Homo sapiens: one gene and its partner. The protein of the gene in region 2 interacts with the protein of the main gene of each other region in a pairwise test. Each region holds a gene or a part of one and is shown on either strand. Other genes may lie near its edges. The genes, in order: FEZ2 and BRD1.

Region 1 (10,161 bases), on a different chromosome or scaffold from region 2:
CAAGAGACTAGGCTCTTGATGAGAGGGGATGTATGATTTCTATACTGTAGAAGATGAAAATGTGGCACACTGTGATCACAAAGGCATGTCGATACCATGGAGTAGACCTACCGATTAGTTTCATCGATCCTTACACTTCGAACACTTCACACCCCCTTCCCAATCACTCTTCCTATGTTGCAACTTGAGGACCATGATTTTGTTTTATTTTTCCCCTTCTGGCTTATAAATACTAAAAGTTTTAATTTTAAAATTAATCCGGGGTGGGCACAGTGGCTCATGCCTGTAATCCCAGCACTTTGGGAGGCTGAGGCGGGTGGATTGCTTGAGCTCAGGAGTTTGAGAACAGCCTGGGAAACATGGTGAAACCCCATTGCTACAAAAAATTAGCCAGGCATGATGGCACATGCCTGTAGTCCCAGCTATTCAGGAGGCTGAGGTGGGAGGATCACTTGAGCCCAGGAGGTGGAGGTTGCAGTGAGCCAAGATGGTGCCACTGCGCTCCAGCCTGGACAACAGAGCCAGACCATGTCTCAAAAAAAAAAAAAAAAATTACTCCTAAGGAAGCCCAGGTTGCCATGGCTCACACCTGTAATCCCAACACTTTGGGAGGCCAAGGTGGGAGGATCTCCTGAGGTCAGGACATCAAGACCACCCTGAGCAACACAGGAAGACCTCGTCTCTACAGAAATATATTTTCTTAAAATTAGCCAGGCATGGCGGTACTCGTGTGTAGTCTAGCTACTCAGGAAGCTGGAGCGGGAAGATCGCTTAAGCCCAGGAGTTGGAGGCTGCAGTAAGCTATGATGGCGCCACTGTACTCCAGCCTGGGCAACAGAGGGAGACACTCTCTCAATCTATCAATCAATCAAATTGCTTCTGTGGAAGACATTATCTTTTTCTTATTTCTACTCTTAAAGGTATAAAGATGCATACAAAAGTCCCTGTCCTGAAAGAAATGCACATGGAAGGAGAAATACAGCACAGAAGATGTTCTTAAGCTGAAATGAATGATAAGCATTCTATCATATAAGTATATTCAAGAATGGCACCAGATTTAGAATAGGGTTATGGCCAAAACACATGAGTAATAACAGTAAACTATTATAATAAATTTCCATGACAACAGAAATGATCCCAGATCATCTTTCCAGAGAGAGAGCCAAGTCCATTCCCCACAGAGATGGCATATGCTAAGAGCTGGAATATCTTTCAGGCTTTGCAAACTAGCCCTGGCTGTCATGGGTATCATTATTCACTCCTCCCTTCAGCATTAAATGTGCCTTCTCTTTGCCAAGCATTCCCATCACTCCTTCCAATGCCAGGGTTAGATACAGACCTGGTGGTACTGTTTCCCTGTATAAAACTGAAGATACATCAAATGGAAAAAATGTGCCCACGTAAGAATTTGAAAGATACCAGTTGCCTTACTCTAAAAAAGACATATCAAATTTAGAAGTGTGCCATCTTAATCTTCAATCAAAGAAAAATTTAAAACTGCAATCTAGCAAACTAGTTTTCCTGAATGTTTTTCTCTTTTTAATGCAAAAACCATTCTTCTTTTGTCAAAAAAAATTTCTATACACTTGGTTTTATAAGTAAAATAATCTAAAGAATGCTTTCAAAGGGTAAATTTTACATAGCTTAGTCACGGCACGAACAGAGCACCAGGTGGCAATGGTAAATACAGTCACTTTGCCAGATTAAAAAAAAAATGCTTAATTATATACCATGTAATAGAATGACGTGATGACTTCTTACATAGTCCTTATTGCCCATTTGTTTTTCAGAAACTCAGTGTGTGCTAATCCTCCCTGAGAAACAGAGTTCTGATTTCAATTCTATTCATCACCAGAATAGTCATGTCACAACAGAGAGATGATAGGTGAATGATCACGTGTTCACTTTCATCTGCTGAGTTTTTCCAGGTAAGGCTGTTTTTTTTTTTATTTTTTGAGACAGAGTCTCGCTCTGTCACCCAGGCTGGAGTGCAGTGGCGTGATCTCGGCGCACTGCAACCTCTGCCTCCCAGGTTCAAGCAATTCTCCTGCCTCAGCCTCCCAAGTATCTGGGATTACAGGCATGCGCCACCACGCCTGGCTAATTTTGTATTTTTAGTAGAGACGGGGTTTCACCGTGTTGGTAAGGCTGGTCTCAAACTCCTGACCTTAGGTGATCCATCCACCTCAGCCTCCCAAAGTGCTGGGATTACAGGCATGAGCCACCGCGCCCAGCCAGGTAAGGCTTTTTAATGTCAGTACTAGCATTAAACTCTACGTCATTACTAATCACTGCCTTGGCCATATCATTACCGTGGCATTGAAAATAACATTCAAAAGGCAGCAAAAGGGAGCAACCTCCCAAGATGCAATCTAAGAACAATACAAGACATACAGCAGTCCCTCGGTATCCAAGGGAAATTTGTTCCAGGACACCCCAATAGCAAAATCTGCAGATGCTCAAGTCCCTTATATAAAGTGGGGTAGTATTTGCATATAACCTGTGCACATCCCCCTATAAGCTTTAAATTATATGTAAATTACTTATAATACCTAATACAAGGTAAATGGTTTATAGTTATATTGTATATAACTATACAATATTTATATTATAAAGTTATATTGTATCGGTTTTCGGTTTTTTATTTTCATTATTTTCAATTGTTGTGTTGTTATTTTATTGTGGGGTTTTTTTTTCAAGTTTTTTAATCCACAGTTGGCTAAAGCAGCAGATGTGAAACCAGAGAATATGGTGGGCCCGCTGTACATTTAGTCAATGAAATTGGATTAAACTGTCTCACTCACGCTGCTAATGGGCCTGACTTTGAAACTATGAATGGAAACTCTTCTATGCTATTTTTTAATATGTCAAAAAAGTAGTACCCATGGACTGGTTTTGGTGCATTCTGCATTATTTTAAATAACATAGAAAATATTTTTTTAAAACCTTTCTATCACGATCTCTGGCCCTACAGTTTCACTGACAAGGCTATTCACTTATTCACTCAATAAAAAGGTATCTTCAAACTTACTATGTGCCAGGAACAGTATAGTTACTATAAAGACAAATACAAATACCTGCCGGGAAGTCACAATCTAGTGACAGACCCAGAAACATATGATTAACAAGAGAAGGCAGTGGTAATTTTAGAGACAGGGACAAAGTGATCTGGGGACTAGCACCCATGAGACAGCAAGGCTAAACCCCGTGGCACAGATAACAAGTCCTTTCAAAGTTCACAACCCCACAAGTGCCATCAGTTCCCCTAGAGGGGAGTGTGTTTTCCTTCCGTGCAGGAATTTAGGCCATGGCTAAATGACCATCTGTCAGAGATGCTGGAGGTGAGGATTCCCCCCAAGTGAGAGGCTGGATTAAGTGTCCTTTAAAGCCCCTTCCAACTCTAAAATTGTATAATTCCATGAGATCAGCAAAGGCTAAAACAGTAATAGGAAGCTTCAGAGAGGAAGGGAAACTTGAACTAAGCCCAAAATGATAGCCAGGACCTAAGTAAACAAGACAGAGCAAAAGATCCCTCATTTTATTCCTTTTCATTAAATATATGCCAGGTCAGTCTGCAAAGCTTAATGGGATTAATGACTGGCACAGTCAGGAAGATTTCCATAGCTACTGAATACTGGGAAATACAGCCAGAATTCTACATTTTACTAGAAAATAATAACAGTAGGCTTTTCTGATCACATATGTAAGAAAATCCTTTTAACAAAACATTAACAATACTATGTAAAATAGTGACAGGCCTACTGCACTATATTCTCAATAATCACATAATTACACTTAATGAAATATAGAGCACGCAAGAAGATCTGGCATGAGTTTACATTATTATTTGATAAGGAACTTAAACAGCCAGGCCCTGAAACTTAGATAATTTGGATATGTTTCTCATCAGATTTAAAAAAGCTTAACACTGTGATTTTCCATTTCAAGTAATTCTCAACCCTTTTCTGCCTCCCTACCTGTCCCACCACTCGTGCTCACACTTCTTAGTCAAGACATCTTCACTTTACAATACCAGGATGTACACAGGAGACCCCAAGAAAGGTAAGTTAGCCAAGACCGTATTTTAAAAGCCAAGAACTAAAATATCTTTTAAAGGTTCTCCAGTATTCACAGGAATACACAGTCTCCTGACAACATATCATGTCTAGCAGGTCACTACACTCATTAAAAAGTTAACTCCGTGTTGAGATTCCAATACTCTCAGTATATTAAACCAAAGGCTAGCATTTTTACTGAGGGTTTCAGTGCACCAAATTTTACTGAGTGTTTCAGTGCATCATCACTGCCAGGTGCAGTGGCTCACACCTGTAATCCCAGCACTCTGGGAGGTGAATTACCTGAGGTCAGGAGTTCGAGACCAGCCTGGCCAACACAGCGAAACCCTGTCTCTACTGAAAATACAAAAATTAGCCGGGACTGGTGGCTCATGCCTGTAATCCCAGCTACTCGGGAGTTTGAGGTGGGAGAATCGCTTGAACCCAGGAGGCAGAGGTTGTAGTAAGCCACTGTACTCCAGCCTGGGCAACAGAGTGAGACTCCGTCAAAAAAAAAAAAATTGTGATGGAAATTTAGCTACACATAAAAAATGAGTGTGCTGGAGAAGAACTGGAGGAATGTGCCAGCAAGGTGATGGCCCTACAGCCAAGACATCAAGACAGAGCCACCCAAACTGCTATAATTTCAGAAATGAGAGGCAGGTCAGTGAATCTGTGTTAAGCAGAAATGCTACTGTTTTAGTTCTATTATCAGCATCAGTTATTCAAACACTATTGGTTCAATTCCTAACTTACCCCTTTTTCTGAGAGGTTCAGAGTAAGCAAGTGCAAGGTCCTAGTATGCGATGACTTCCAGTCTACAGGCATCACATTCCCATAATTATCTGTCAGGGCATTCCAAATCCTTAAAAAGAAGAAAGCTACAATCAATGAAAATTAACATTCTGTATGTCTTTCTTAAACAAATATTCAGTGAAAGATGAACAGCAAATGTCAAAGGAAACAGAGAAAAACAGACAGCACATTGTTTCTCAGAAAAACATCAACAAAGTAGAGTCTCCTAAACAAAAACGAGGTGAAAAATCACATAACTGGGCTGACAAGAAGTCCTAAGGGAAGGTGAAGCCGTACAGAAAACTGCCAATAGGCAGTAGGCAACACTTCCATTATATTAGGTGCTAGGCACTGTTCTAAGCAATTTACATGTATTAACTCATGTAATCTTCAAAAACAACATTAGAAGGGGGAACCATTATTAACCTCATTTTACAGATGAAGAAACTGAAACACAGGGCGGGGAAGAAATGTTTCCAGGGTCACATGAATAATAAATACAACTGTGCATTACACTTATTTTTCTTCTGTAACTTCAAACAAACAGACCATTTCAAAAAGTGAAAAATCTCTCTCAAACAAAAGGTTTGTTATCCTTTCTGGAGAAAGAATTCGCTCTCAATGTGAGAACAGGATTTAATATCTAATTTGTAATAAAGAAGCTAAGCACTAAGGCAGATACAACAAAAAGGAGAAAGAGAGGGAGTTCACAATAAAACACACCCAGGCTCTATCCAATGCAGTTACCTGACCTTATTACCCAACAGCATTACAGGGAGGCAAGAGGGTCAAATGGTAAGGGCATTTGACTGAGACTAGGGAAACAAACTCTCATCTCCATCCTTCTTCAAATAACGAGTCATTGGCCAGGCCCCTTAACCTCCCTAGGTATCCTCTGCCCTTCTATAAATGAGAGACCTGGACAAGAAGCAGATACTCCTTCCAGCTCCATTACTCTAAGCATTAATTCAAATGAGGTGTATTGAAGAGAGTCCCAAACCACACCAGATAAGAACACCAAACTCAAATTTCACAACCAAAATTCAGGTTTCAATACCAAAGTAATAATCAGCACAATAAAACATGATGTTTTATGAAAAACTAAAGTTCAGAGATACAAGTGACTTGAAATCTAATTGGGATACGTAAAATCAAACACTAAACATACAAGCTACTTACTAGCTAGAGGTATACACAAAGATGTCATGTAGAAAAAAACACCCTAAAATGTTTATTAGGTATCTAATTGTGAATAAGCAATAGGCTTTCTTTCCAAGTGTGTAAGACACTAGGATACAAAAACAATCCTGGCTGGGGCATAAACATAAGAATGAATTTTTTTTTTAAGTTCCGGGGTACATGGGCAGGATGTGCAGGTTTGTTACACAGGCAAACATGTGCCATGGTGATTTGCTGCACCTATCAACCCATCACCTAGGTATTAAGCCCAAGAATGAAAATTTTAAAATACAGACATAACATAGTTAACAAATAGGGATTGGGCGCTAAAAAGAAGCAATAGGACTGCAACGGCTAAAAGCATAACATCCCAAATGATGTTTGGCTTTAAAATGCACGTTAGGGATGGGCCTGGTGGCTCATGCCTGTAATCCCAGCATTTTGGGAAGCCAAAGTGGGAGGATTGCTTGAAGCCAGGAGTTCAAGACCAGCCTGGGCAACAAAAGGGAGCCCCACATCTCTACAAAAAAAAAAAAAAAAAAAAAATTGGCCAGGCCTGTGGCATGTGCCGCAGTCCCAGCTACTTTTGGAGGGTAAGGCAGGAGGACTGCTTAAGCCCAGGAGCTCAAGGCTGTAGTGAGCTATGATGGCACCACTGTACTCCAGCCTGGGAGACAGAGCAAGACCCTGTCTCTAAAAATATATAAATAAAATAAAAAATAAAATTAGCCTTAATAAAAATGTGAACCCAAAAATCTCTAGAGAACTAACTCATCTACCCAGCAAAGCTCCCATATGCACAGTCCATTCCTATTCTCCTCTCTGTTGGAATATCTCCTCTAATGCCAGTGAAGTAGAATTAGAGGCAATGTCTGTGGACTACTAAATTTGCTGGGTTTCTGTGGACTACTAAACTTGCTGGGTTTCTGGCTCATACCTTCCTGGATAAGAAATTTTCAAACACTGAATGACTGTATAGTCCATTTTCATGCAGCTGATAAAGACATACCCAAGACTGGGACGAAAAAGAGGTTTAATTGGACTTACAGTTCCACATGGCTGAGGAGGCCTCAGAATCATGGTGGGAGACAAAAGGCACTTCTTACATGGTGGCAGCAAGAGAAAAGGAGGAAGATGCAAAAGCAGAAACCCCTGATAAACTCATGGACAGCGGCCCTCTTCTCACAACCCCACTAGGCAGTGCCCCAGTAGGGACTCTGTGTGGGGGCTCCAACCCCACATTTCCCTTCCACACTGCCCTAGCAGAGGTTCTCCATGAGGGCCCTGCCCCTGCAACAAACTTTTGCCTGGGCATCCAGGCATTTCCATACATCTTCTGAATCTAGAAGGAGGTTCCCAAACCTCAATTCTTGACTTCTGTGCACCTGTGGGCTCAACACCACATGGAAGCTGCCAAGGCTTGGGGCTTGCACCCTCTGAAGCCACAGCCTGAGCTGTACTCTCGCCCCTTTCAGCCACAGCTGGAGCAGCTGGTACACAGGGCACCAAGTCCCTAGGCCGCATACAGCAGGCAGACCCTAGGCCCAGCTCACGAAACCACTTGTTCCTTTTTGGGCCTCCAGGCCTGTGATGGGAGGAGCTGCCATGAAGGTCTCTGACATGGCCTGGAGACATTTTCCCCATGGTCGTGGGGATTAACATTAGGGTCCTTGCTACTTACGCAAATTTCTGCAGCTAGCTTGAATTTCTCCCCAGAAAATGGGTTTTTTTTTTTTCTATCGCATAGTCAGGCTGCAAATTTTCCAAACTTTTATGCTCTGCTTCCCTTATAAAACTGAATACGTTTAATAGCACCCAAGTTACCTCCTGAATGCTTTACTGCTTAGAAATTTTTTCTGCCAGATACCCTAACTCATCTCCCTCAAGTTCAAAGTTCCACAAATCTCTAGGGCAGGGGCAAAATGCCACCAGTTCTCTTTGCCAAAACATAACAAGGGTCATCTTTGCTCCAGTTCCCAACAACTTCCTCATCTCCATCTGAGACCACCTCAGCCTGGATTTTATTGTCCATATTGCTGTCAGCATTTTGGGAAAGCCATTCAACAAGTCTCTAGGAAGTTCCAAACTTTCCCACATTTTCCTGTCTTCTGAGCCCTTCAAACTATTCCAATCTCTACCTGTTCCCCAGTTCCAAAGTCATTTCCACATTTTCAGGTATCTTTTCAGCAACGCCCCACTCTACTGGTACTAACTTACTATATTAGGTTATTTTCATGCAGCTGATAAAGACATACCCGAGACTGGGAAGAAAACGAGGTTTAATTGGACTTACAGTTCCACATGGCTGGGGAGGCCTCAGAATCATGGCAGGAGGCAAAAGGCACTTCTTACATGGCGGCAGCAAGGGAAAATGAGGAAGGAGCAAAAGCGGAAACCCCTGATAAGCCCATCAGATCTTGTAAGACTTATTCACTATCATGAGAATAGCATAGGAAAGACCAGCCCCCATGATTCAATTACCTCCCCCTGGATCCCTCCCACAACACGTGGGAATTCTGGGAGATACAATTCAAGTTGAGATTTGGGTGGGGACACAGCCAAACCGTATCACTGACTATAGACCTAATCCTGGCAGGAATTTAAGCAGGATACACTAGCAGGTGAAGACAGTCCAGAATTTGAGGAGTTTGCTTTGTCTGCTGATTTGCTCCTTCTTAAACAAGGCTATAAGAAAAAGGCAAATGGGATGGAATATTTCACTTAGAAGTGCCTGTCAGTGAGTTTGATCTTCCAAGAAAATGAAAGCCAACTAACAGTCTCCACCAAGGTCAAAACAATGGTAGTTGGAAGGACACAGAGGCAACTCTAGTGAAAGATTTCTAGAATTCTGCAGTCAAGACATATGAACTGCCTTCATCTTTATCACCAAGTATTACAACCAGTCGTAAACAACGGTCAGGACAGCTCTTTTGCAAGGAGGTCAAAGTCCTGCCAACATCGAATCCTGCAGAATACTCTTATAAGTAAAACCTCAGTACGTAAATACAATCCATATTTAACCAAAACAAAAGCTGAGGCTCAGAGAAGTTAAATGAAGTGCCAAGGGTCGGGGAGGGCTTTGGGGTGATTCAAGCACATTACATTTACGGTGTACTTTATTTCTATTATTACACTGTCATATATCATGAAATAATTTTACAACTCACCATAACGTAGAATCAATGGGAGCCCTGAGCTTGTTTTCCTGCAACTAGATGGTCCTATCTGGGGGAGAGGGGAAACAGTGACAGATCATCAAGCATTAGATTCTCATAAGGTGTCTGCAAACTAGAACCCTCACTTGTGCAGTTCACAATAGGGTTCACGCTCCTATGAGAATCTAATGCCGTGGCTGATCTGACAGGAGGTGGCTCAGGTGGTAATGCAAGCAATGGGGAGGAGCTGTAAATACAGATGAGGCTTTGCTCACTCACTCAGCCACTCACCTCCTGTAGTGTGGCCCAGTTCCAGTACCGGTCTGTGGACCAGGGGTTGGGGACCCCTTGACCTAAAGCACAGCAATATCTGAGTAAAACAATTATCAATTATATCTAGTGAAAAGGGAACTGGAACAGACTATCAAGCAATGATGAGTATGTTTTTGCAATATAAAAGGGACAATGCCAGTGATGACCAGCTCCCAACTCCCGGAAAAAAAGAGATTTCATATGCATTCCCAAGTCAAGAGACATGCATTACCACCAACATATCATCTACTAAATACCATTAACAAGAGCGACAAAATATTTTTAAGCAAAGGCTAAAATAACCTACTCTCCTGACGGTCTAAGTGAAACAAAAACTCTTAACGATCTACGTACAATCCTCTAATTGATTTAAGTCAGCTACTCTTGAAAAACCCAAATACATAATACATCTACACTAATTTTTAAATCCAGAATGTGTCCTGGGTTTAGTGATTCAGAGTATCTAAATCTACATATACATAAAATTATCTTCTCTTTGGGAACAGGCTTCCAAAAATGTCATCTTTTGCTACTGACGGCATGCATGTGTGTATAAAATCCAATTATAAGTGTTTCCCTTCTCTACACCTGGGCAGAACACTGTACTGAGGAACCAATAAAAGGAGATGGTCTCCAAACACAGGTGGGCCTGCACCACTGCTCAG
Region 2 (10,161 bases):
AGCAGCCAGCAGCGGGCACCAGGTGGGCGTCTGAGAGCTGATGGCAGGCAAGGCATCCAAGCCAGAGCGTGATGGCTGTGGGAGGCGGGGGAAGCTTTCCCACGGTCACCAGAGGCTAGAGAAGGACCTTCCAGGACAAGCATGAGCCCATGGAGCCCTGGGCTCACTCTGAGGCGGCTCAGCCCTGGCTCCTCTCAGGTCCCCAAGGGAATGTTTCGGAAAAGGATAGCTGGTCTGATCAGCCTGGAGAGCGCAGCTTCAGAGAGGGGTTAAAGCTCCACCCGGGTTCACCAAGAGCCAGCAGCACTGTTTGGAGCCTGTGTTTATTTTCTAAATTTCTCCAAGAAAAACGTGTTACTCTTAAAATCAGAAAATCAGAGACAAAGAATAAAAATATATTTCCATTGTGTTTTCTTTTTTTTTTTTTTGAGACAGTCTTGCTCTGTCGCCCAGGCTGGAGTGTAGTGGCGTAATCTCGGCTCACTGAGAGCACCGCCTCCCGGATTCACGCCATTCTCCTGCCTCAGCCTCCCGAGTAGCTAGGACTACAGGTGCCCGCCACCATGCCTGGCTAATTTTGTTTTTGTATTTTTAGTACAGACAGGGTTTCACCACATTAGCCAGGATGGTCTCGACCTCCTGACTTCGTGATCCACCCGCCTCGGCCTCTCTCTTTTTTCTTTTTTTTTTTGGAGATAGGGTCTCACTCTGTCACCCAGGCTTCAGTGCAATGGCACAATCTCCGCTCACTGCAGCCTCCACCTCCCAGGTTCAAGCGATTCTCCTGCCTCAGCCTCCGAAATAGCTGGGATTACAGGCATGCGCCACCATGCCCGGCTAATTTTTTGTGTTTGCAGTAGAAACGGGGTTTCTGCATGTTGGCCAGGCCGGTCTCAATCTCCCGACCTCAAGTGATCCACCCGCCTCGGTATCCCAAAGTGCTGGGATTACAGGCATGAGCCACAGAACCTGGCCCTATCCCCAGTCTTTAAAAGAGTACAGCCCATCCTCCAATCCTCACAGGTGCCGAGTGCTGCGGGACCCCACGGGAAGCAGGGAGCCCAGCACTGCTGCCATGAGGGGAACAGAGGGCGAAGCAACGATGGCCCAGCTTGGTTGAATCCCATGATGGCGGGAAGCGGACCCCACGATGGCGGGAACGTGGACCCCGCGATGGCGGGAACGTGGAAGAGAGGAAGAGGGCCAGGCCTCATCCCAGAAGAAGCGACCTAGCACGGGTCAGTGATTCATCAAGAGAAAGGGTAGGCCAAGAAATCAGGGATATGGGACCTTTAGACAAATAAGCCAAACACACCGTGATTTCTGCTCAGTTTGTGGCTCAGAGCTGGAGCTGAGGTGCTGGAGCTCTATGTGCTTTGACAACCCATGTGGGCAGGACACACCCTTCGACAGACAATCCCAGAGGTGCGACTAACAAGCAGGGTGCAGGGGACAGCCCCGGTTTCCGAGGACCAGTCTAGAGAAGGGTGCAGGTGACTACACATGGCTGCAACACGTGCCTGGGCAACCAAGAAGCACAAGCCCAGGCTGGAGTCCAGGTGGGCCGTGGACACACTCCCAGAGCCCTTTCTACAACATGCGCAAACCACGAAGTTAAAGGGCTGGAGGCAAAGCCAGAGATCCTCCGGCTTCACGCCACCCTCAGAAGTTAGCCGAGGCCCACTCTGGATGAAAACCCCCAACTAAGCTGCTTTCTGGGTCTGCATCGTCGAGACCGGCCACCCCATAGGGAGCCACAGCCACACAGTCCTCTTGGTGGGCACCCAAAACGCAGCCAGTCTGAAGTGACAGGTGCTGAGCGTAAAATACACATCAGATGGCAAAGAAGGTGAAAAGCTTATATATCCTCAGTAACGTTTACCGATCCCATGTTGAAATCAACTCTTCCATACACTGAGTAAAATAAGACATATTATTAAAGTAAATTCCACCTGCTTCTTTTCCATTTTTCAGTGAGGCTACTAGAAAATGTAAATGATGTATGCGGTTGCATGCTAGTGGCTCCCGGACCATGCTGATAGGGAGCTGGCAACACAGAGCAGGACAGAGTCTGCTAGAAAGAGCGTCTTCCACCTCCTCCGGACACGGCGCCAGTTCTTACCGTCTTCCCAGGAGAAAGGCCGCCGCGGTGCCGCAGCAGGCCGCTCAGGCAGGTGCATCCCCGAGGCCTCTTCCAAGCCGATGCTGTCCACCTCGCGCCGGGCCTGCCTCAGAACAACACCTCCCTGATCGCGCAGCCTCACCGCGGCTCTATAGAACACGGTGTCCCTGGCATTGTACTTCATGCAGTTATCTATAATGAGATCAAAATCCTCCTCAAACTCATGGAGGTTTTTATACCCTTGAGCTTCTAACCGTTTCCTCATTGTGGCAAAGTCCATGGGATGTTTAATGTGATCCAAATAATCTGGTACCTAATTTTAGGGAGGAAAAAGAATCATTTACAAACTAAAACAGGATATTAGTTGACTCTATATTTATTATTCCATATAACCCACAAGCCCATCCTATCTGAGAGCCACACACAGACACGCAGACGGTACAGACATAAGACCCAAGTACTGCAGGGACCTTCCCGACCCCAGCTCCTTCAGCTAAAGCACGCTGGAGGGTGCCGGGCGGATGCTGCCACAGCCCAGGGTACTGTCTGCACAGGGCCTCTTGCCCACTGCACTTTCAGTATTTTACAATGAAATGTATCACTTTTATAATTTAAAAACAAATACGTTAAATAAAAACGAGAATTAAGAACACAAGGGATGTACTCTAGCCAATCACACGTTTCCCGGTCAAACGGCAGCACAAATCCACAGTCACACATGCGGCAGGACAGACGAGCGCCGCAAACACCCACCTCCTTCAGACTCACGGGCTGCGCAAATATCCTGGCGGGGTCCTTGTCTTGCAGCTGGTCCAGCACTGAGCGCAGCAGCACCGTCAGCGGGGTCAGCCGCAGCTCCATGGCGACCTGCTCCACCTTCACCTGGGGGGGCCCAGCAGAGCCTCAGCTTTAGGGAGCCGCACATGCGTCTCAGCCCCACCACGCGCCCCACAGCCACAAGCAGCCCCCACAGGCTCCTGTGCTTCCGTCCAGGCATAGGACAACGCAGCCTCCACTTAGGGCTCTGCAACCCATGGCAGCCAGGCACCCAGCCTGGGCTGAGCAAGGCACTGCTGTGGGCCAGGACCCACCGGGTGCAGCCCACCCTCTGCAGGAGCTGCCAGCGTCCCACCCACGCCCCGTGGCCAGTGGTGCACTCCACGCGGGACAGGCCCAGCCCCACCTGCTCACGCTTGAGCTTCTCCCGCTTGCGCAGCAGCTCGATCAGCAGGCGAGCGCGCTCCAGGTCGTGCCGCAGCCGCTGCCAGTACTTCAGCTTCTCTTTGGCAGCCTTCATCTCCTCATCATTTTCTCTCTGAGAACAGTGAACACTTCCGTCAGTCAAACCCAGAGGCTCCTTCTGCAAAAGGCCTCAGATACCATGCAGGTGAGACCCCAAGAGGCATCCACGTCAGGGGTCCTGCAGGCCCATCCTGGGGAGGACAACAGACCACCCTCACTAGAGAGCCCCAGGACAGCACCGGGACAGAGGGGACAGAGGAGACAGAGGGGATGGAGGGGACAGAGGGGACCGCCAGGCCAAGGTGAGCAGGGGGCTGGCCCCGGTGCACAGGTTCCACCCTCCAGAGAGGACAGAGGCCTCCGCAAGCTGGCGGCGGGGGGGGCCTTCACAGAACCAGAAAGGCCCACAAAGGCGGGGCCAGGACAGAATGGGGGACCCTTGAGGACCCACCTCCAGGACAGCTGGGAATGGAGGGAGCGGCTGGAAAGAAACCAGGTGCACAGAAAACCACATGCTGGGCCCATCCTGGCTTGGACAGAGCATGACGGGGGCCTGGCACACAGCCGACCTGCTGCCCTGCCCTGCACAGCGCCTCCATCCCGACACACGTTTCCCCACAGCCAGGGTCCCATTTCCATTGATAGCACCTGCTCCCTTCTCAGTGGACAGAAGAGTGCGCCAGACAGCACAGGCCGCCAGCCTCAACCCAGCCAACATCCACACCAGGGTGATCAGAAGAAAATCAGAGCCCTGCAAAGGCCATGACACAGATGGTCGCAGGAGAGTAGGCCACCTGGGTCTGCCCTCAGCCCTGTCCTCACCATGTCCCCCAGGCCTGGCCGCATGAGGCCTGCTCGTCACAGTGCCGGGGCACCCTGACCCTACCTCAAAGGGGAGAGGAAGTCAACGAGGGAGTTGGCCTGAGTGGGCCCCCAACACCTGTCATCCTCCACAGCTGCAGGACACGCGCGCCCTGCCAGCCTCAGGACAGCCGTGGCCATCAGTTTCTGGCACATGCTTCACAGCCCTGAGACCCTCCTCTCCCCCAACGCCTCTGTCCCCGGGTTCCCACCTGCCCACCTCAGGGTACTGTCATAGCTTTTCAAAGGACCGAGGGTGTGAAGGCAAAGACTGCTGGACTACAAGATGCAAGGACCCCGGACTCCAAACTGCTCAGAAAAGGAGGCTCAAGGAGGGAGGCCGAGCCCCGCACCCCCACCCCCAAGGCCAGGCCTCTCCATGGCGAGGCAGAGCGTTGCTGCGCTGATGTCCCCTGAAGTGAGGATCTCTGGGTTTTCCTCAATGCTGCTGAACACCCTCAGGCAGGAAATCGGGGCTAAGAGTAACAAGATCCACATCAACTCAAGCAAAGGCAGGAAAATGTGGGCTCCAAAAACCAAGCTCCCCGGAGCATCTGAGTATTGCCTGTCCCTCAGCTTGCAATCGACACTTCTGAAAACCTCGGCCAAAAGGACATTTGGCCTGGGAATCTGTTACGAAGCGGAAGAAATCTCCTCATCACCAGGAAGCCCTTTATCACGCACTGGCTGCTAAGCAAACTTACTAGTCTGCTCCCCAACCTGGTTTAACAAACGCCATCGGCAGTGGCAGGGGCCCCGTTGACAGCACCTGGGCCCAAGGTCCCATGACACATGCAGCCTCATCCACTCAGAAGGATCAAGGTTCCTTACTCGGCTCTCAAGGGCTCGATATTTCCCATGTAAAAATCAACAGTGGGAGGCTCCACGAGAAAGGACAGAAGTGAAGAAGCACTCAGGCATCCCCACTGCCGGGAAGAAGCTGAGCGCCTCCGCGTCCATTCCAGACACATGGGGGAGACACAGGGCAGGGCTAGGCGACGGTCAGGTTAAAATCGCCTCTGCTGGGAGGACAGGCCAGCTCCTGGGGTGAGGGCCCACAGTGTTACAGAGTGGCCGACCCCAGGCCTCCTGGCAACAGCACCCAGCTCCTGCCACTGGGCCCAATGCCGCCAGCAGGTGCGTGGGACTGGCAGAGGCCACACACGCAGCACAGCAAGGACGATGTGGGCAGCAGCGCCCAGCATGCCACAGGACAGACACTGGGAAAGCTGCAGGATGCGCTCCCAGGACAGGAAGGGTGGGCCACGGGAGCAGGAGACAGTGGGACGCCACCAGCATACACACAAATCGCTGCTCACCCTTTATAAAGCTAAGCTGCCGCCCCCGTTCTCCCTGCGGCCTTCAACGGCCACACACACCAGAACAAAAACCAGGGCCTATATGCGCAGCCAGCACAGACCCGCCATCGCTGCAGCACCCTCGGCGCCTGCTGGCCTCTCAAGAGACCCCGTCCAGTTCATCCACCTGCCCCCACCACAGGGTCAGGCTGGGGCAGGTACACAGAGACACAGAGGAATCAAATGCATCAGGTACTTCCAAAGCTTCAAAACCATGAAACCACACCAAGCCGTGGCCATCCCTGGCCAGGAGAAGGCAGAAGCACAGTCTCTCCCAATAGCCCGTTCACACAGAGGCAGGTTTCCAGGCTCTCCACGCCGACTGCTCTGCTGCGGCTCAAGTCCAGGCAGCTCCTTCTGCTCCTTCCCAGGTGACTTCGAGAAGCTGCCCCCTCTGCCAGAAGAGCTGCTCTGGCCGGGCTGTGGGGATGTTCTCTCCTTACAAACGTATTCTGCACACAACAGGACGTGAGGCCTAACAGGCAGCGATGAAGCAGAGGGGGCCCAGCTGGCAGGTTCCAGCGGGTCACCTCTTCTTTGCAACCCTCCCCCTTCCCTTGCCTGGCTCCACCACGCCCCAGGCCACCCCCAGCTGCCTGGGTCCCCGTGGCCCCTGCCCACTGGCCCACGTGTCCTGCTACTGCAGGGATTCTGGCCCTCGTGTCCCAGCTTATGAGAGTAGAAATGATGATTCCCACCGCTGGACGTCCCGTTTGGCCACATCCATGCCCACTTTCCATGGAATCTGCCCTTCAACAGCTCCTCTGTGACTTACCTGGAGTTCTGTCCAGCCCCGAGATAAGACCCAAGATCTGAACCCTCAACTTCCTCCCAAAAAAGCCTCTCTTCCATTCCCCAACATCGCAGGGGCGGAGACCAATGCCTCCACTCTCTTCCTTTCCCCAACATCGCGGGGGCCGAGACCAATGCCTCCACTCTCTTCCTTTCCCCAACATCGCGGGGGCCGAGACCAATGCCTCCACTCTCTTCCTTTCCCCAACATCGCGGGGGCCGAGACCAATGCCTCCACTCTCTTCCATTCCCCAACATCGCGGGGGCCGAGACCAATGCCTCCACTCTCTTCCTTTCCCCAACATCGCGGGGGCCGAGACCAATGCCTCCACTCTCTTCCTTTCCCCAACATCGCGGGGGCCGAGACCAATGCCTCCACTCTCTTCCTTTCCCCAACATCGCGGGGGCCGAGACCAATGCCTCCACTCTCTTCCATTCCCCAACATCGCAGGGGCCGAGACCAATGCCTCCACTCTCTTCCTTTCCCCAACATCGCGGGGGCCGAGACCAATGCCTCCACTCTCTTCCTTTCCCCAACATCGCGGGGGCCGAGACCAATGCCTCCACTCTCTTCCTTTCCCCAACATCGCGGGGGCCGAGACCAATGCCTCCACTCTCTTCCTTTCCCCAACATCGCGGGGGCCGAGACCAATGCCTCCAGCCCCCAGAGCTTCCCGCCGCTCAGCCACTTCCTGACTCTGGCCTCTTAAGAGCCCCCCAAACCGTGCTGTCCTTTCCAGGAGCCCTGGAGGCTACGAGGTGAGGACAGAGGAGAGATGGAAAGCCAAGTCACATCATGGAACGGAAGATGCGGTTAACTCATTCAACAGCCAAAAGACATTCACTGAAGCCTCAACTCTGTGGACACGTGAGGATCTCACTTGGAGAGGGGCTGGCTCACAGACCTGCCCGGGGAGCCCCAAGTTCCATGGACAGACACACAGTGGGGCAACCCAGGTGGACGGCACGGGAGACCTGGAATATTCCACAGCCAAGACGCACCAAGGCCGTCAGAAAACTTTGGACCCCACCACACCAAATCAGACCCACAAACCACCACCTGCCAGACCAGAGCACCAGACTCTGTAGTTCCCTGGAGCACAAGGCAGCCACGGCAGGTGACTGAACAGGGCTCACGCTGCAGAGGCAGAGTCTGCGAGGCAGAGACAGCACCGGCCACCGCACCACCGCACGGGGACCCAACCGTGAACCCTGTAGACTCAAGCTTCCTGTGAGCAAGTCACCACCTCACAGCAGAGCAGGATGGTTTCGCTTCGTGCCCAGGATGGCAGTGAAAAGCACCATGAGGAAATTCCAAGAGGCACTCAGGCCACGCGACGCCAGCAGCAGACAGCTCTTCCAAAAGACCAGCGGCTCCTCACTAGGCAGCGTGGGCAGAGGGCGCTGGCCGCAGGTCCTGGGCCGTGTGCAGAGCTGCTTGTGTTTTCAATTACTTTTGTGCATCTCACAGAAGCTACTTCACTCTGTAAACCCATTTTTTCAGAACTGTTTCACAGTATCAGATGAGTCTATAAACTCAAACCTACTATCAAAATGTAAGAGTTTGGGTTTGTTCTTTTAAAAAGGAAAAGTCCTGCTCCTTCCCTCCCACTCTCTCAGCTCTCTCGAGCCCTCCCCACCCCACCACAGTCCCAGCTAAACCAACCTTCAGAGCAAGGCCCTCGAAATAAACCACTCCTCACATATTTCCAAAACCCACCCTCCAGGCCCAGCACACAGACCCCCACCCACATGGCCCGGGTGTGCTCACCGGGTCCCACTCCTGCTGTCCCCAGCCCGGACGCTCATGCAGCCACAGCATAACACATCCCTGAGCATCCCCAGTCCCCAGAGCTGGCCACTGCCCATCAGCGTGTGTGCGGGCAGGGCAGGGCGGGGGAGCGCAACTCAAAACGGAAGAAACACCCAGTGACAGGCATGGATGAGAATCACCCCCCGAGTCGCAGATCCAGAGCCCAGTGCACCCGACTCCTCCTACAGCTCCAGGGCTGGACGAGACGGAGGCTTCCCAACGGGGAGCCTGAGCCCAGGGGGCAGCACCGTGACCAGCCTGAACCAGGTGCCCTCTCCCTGGAGGGTGGGGGTGAGAGACGCAGAAAGGCTGTGGGGGCCACGAGCCACGTACCTGCTGTGAGCTTCGCTGAGACTGCAGGCTGGACTGCAGCCGCCGCAGCAGGGGGGCCCCGTTCCTGGACAGCCGCTTGAGCAGCCAGTAGCTGTGGGCTCGCTCCACAAACTGCTTCTTCCGCTGAATGGCCACCTGATTCGCAATCCTATTTAACCTAAAACACAAACACTCAGTGTATCTTTGAAGCAGTACATTAAGATGTTTCATCACATAAACTAGAAATGACAGTACTACTGCTAACAAAACCATGTGTTCATACTTTTTCTCCCTAAGCCATGACACCTGTATTTCTACTATCCCTAGTGCTGCTAAAACAAAATTCACGATCTCCAACCATTTGAAGATTTCATCCACTTTTTAGGTTGGGCACAGTGGCTCCTGCCTGTAATCCCAGCACTTTGGGAGGCCGAGGTGGGGGGATCCCTTGAGGCCAGGAGTTTGAGACCAGCCTGGCCAACATGGTGAAACCCCGTCTCTACCAAAAATACAAAAATATTAGCTGAATGTGGAGGTACATGCGTGTAGTCCCGGCTACTTGGGAGGCTGAGGCAGGAGAATCGCTTAAACCTGGGAGGTGGAGGTTGGTGTGAGCCGAAATCGCACCACTGCACTCCAGCCTGGGTGACAGAGCGAGATTCTGACTCAAAAATAAAATTAAAAAAAAAAGATTTCATCCACTTCTCATTCACTACAACATTTATCAGATTGAATATCCAAAAAGAAAACATGCTGAGCAAAGCCTTCAACAGTTTTCATTCTTTCTATGTGACCCCATCTGCACACAAGCTGACTTCAACCACATCTGTGTCAGCGGGCCCAAAACCTTAGACACTGTCCACTCAGACGCCATGGGAGAGGTGGGCACTGGTCCCCATGTCACCTCCAAGAAGAGAGACAGAGCTCAAGGTATAAGCCGCTAACAGGTGCTGTTTTACCGTGCTCACTAAAATGACATCAGTCATCTTCAAGTCTCCCAAGAAATGCAAAGTGCTGCCCTTGGGGGCACATGGAGCCACCAAGACCCTCGGCGCCTCTCATCCACCAAGGGAACCCAACGCCGCCTCTTCCGGCAGAACCTGGCTCAAGCGTGGAGCCTGCAGGAGAACACTCACCAGACCCAGAACTGACCGTGAGGTGCCTTCTCACAGGGAACCCGCCGGGGGAACTTTGCCAGAGTGACCCATCAGCAAGAGCTCCCGTGCAGATGTGGAACCCCTTTAGGCTAAAACAATCCTGCCCACCACTCCAAGGGCAGTCTGCATGCTCAGGACACCAAACGCCTGCCCACGAAGCACAGCCCTCCAAGGACAGCCAACGGAAGGAAGCCAGAGGCTGGAGAGGGCATCGGCAGGTGCACTGGGACGCTGGGCTCTGATCACAGCCCCACAGGGCTCCTCCTCTGCAGGCTGGGCTGGGCTGGACCTGGTCACCTCATGGCCTGCTGTTTTGGGAGCAGTCTGTTTTTACCACTTGGGACTGAGGCAAACCATGTGCAGTCAATAGCACAACACTTAACTCTTCTGGTTCAGTGAGTCTTTTTTTTTTTTTTTTTTGAGATGGAGTCTCACTCTATTGCCCAGGCTGGAGTGCAGTGACGCAATTTCAGCTCACTGCAACCTCCGCCTCCCGGGTTCAAG

What was found.
Region 1: the proteins of BRD1 (region 2) and FEZ2 interact in a two-hybrid assay, tested with the Homo sapiens proteins (one study listed by BioGRID).

Annotation. Positions count from the first base shown.
Region 1 is NC_000002.12:36,586,092-36,596,252, forward strand, and holds part of FEZ2 (fasciculation and elongation protein zeta-2), read right to left. Parts: intron 4,921-10,161; coding exon 4,812-4,920; intron 1-4,811. UniProt on the Homo sapiens protein: Involved in axonal outgrowth and fasciculation.
Region 2 is NC_000022.11:49,795,683-49,805,843, forward strand, and holds part of BRD1 (bromodomain-containing protein 1), read right to left. Parts: intron 8,679-10,161; coding exon 8,522-8,678; intron 3,438-8,521; coding exon 3,306-3,437; intron 3,005-3,305; coding exon 2,876-3,004; intron 2,436-2,875; coding exon 2,123-2,435; intron 1-2,122. UniProt on the Homo sapiens protein: Scaffold subunit of various histone acetyltransferase (HAT) complexes, such as the MOZ/MORF and HBO1 complexes, that acts as a regulator of hematopoiesis.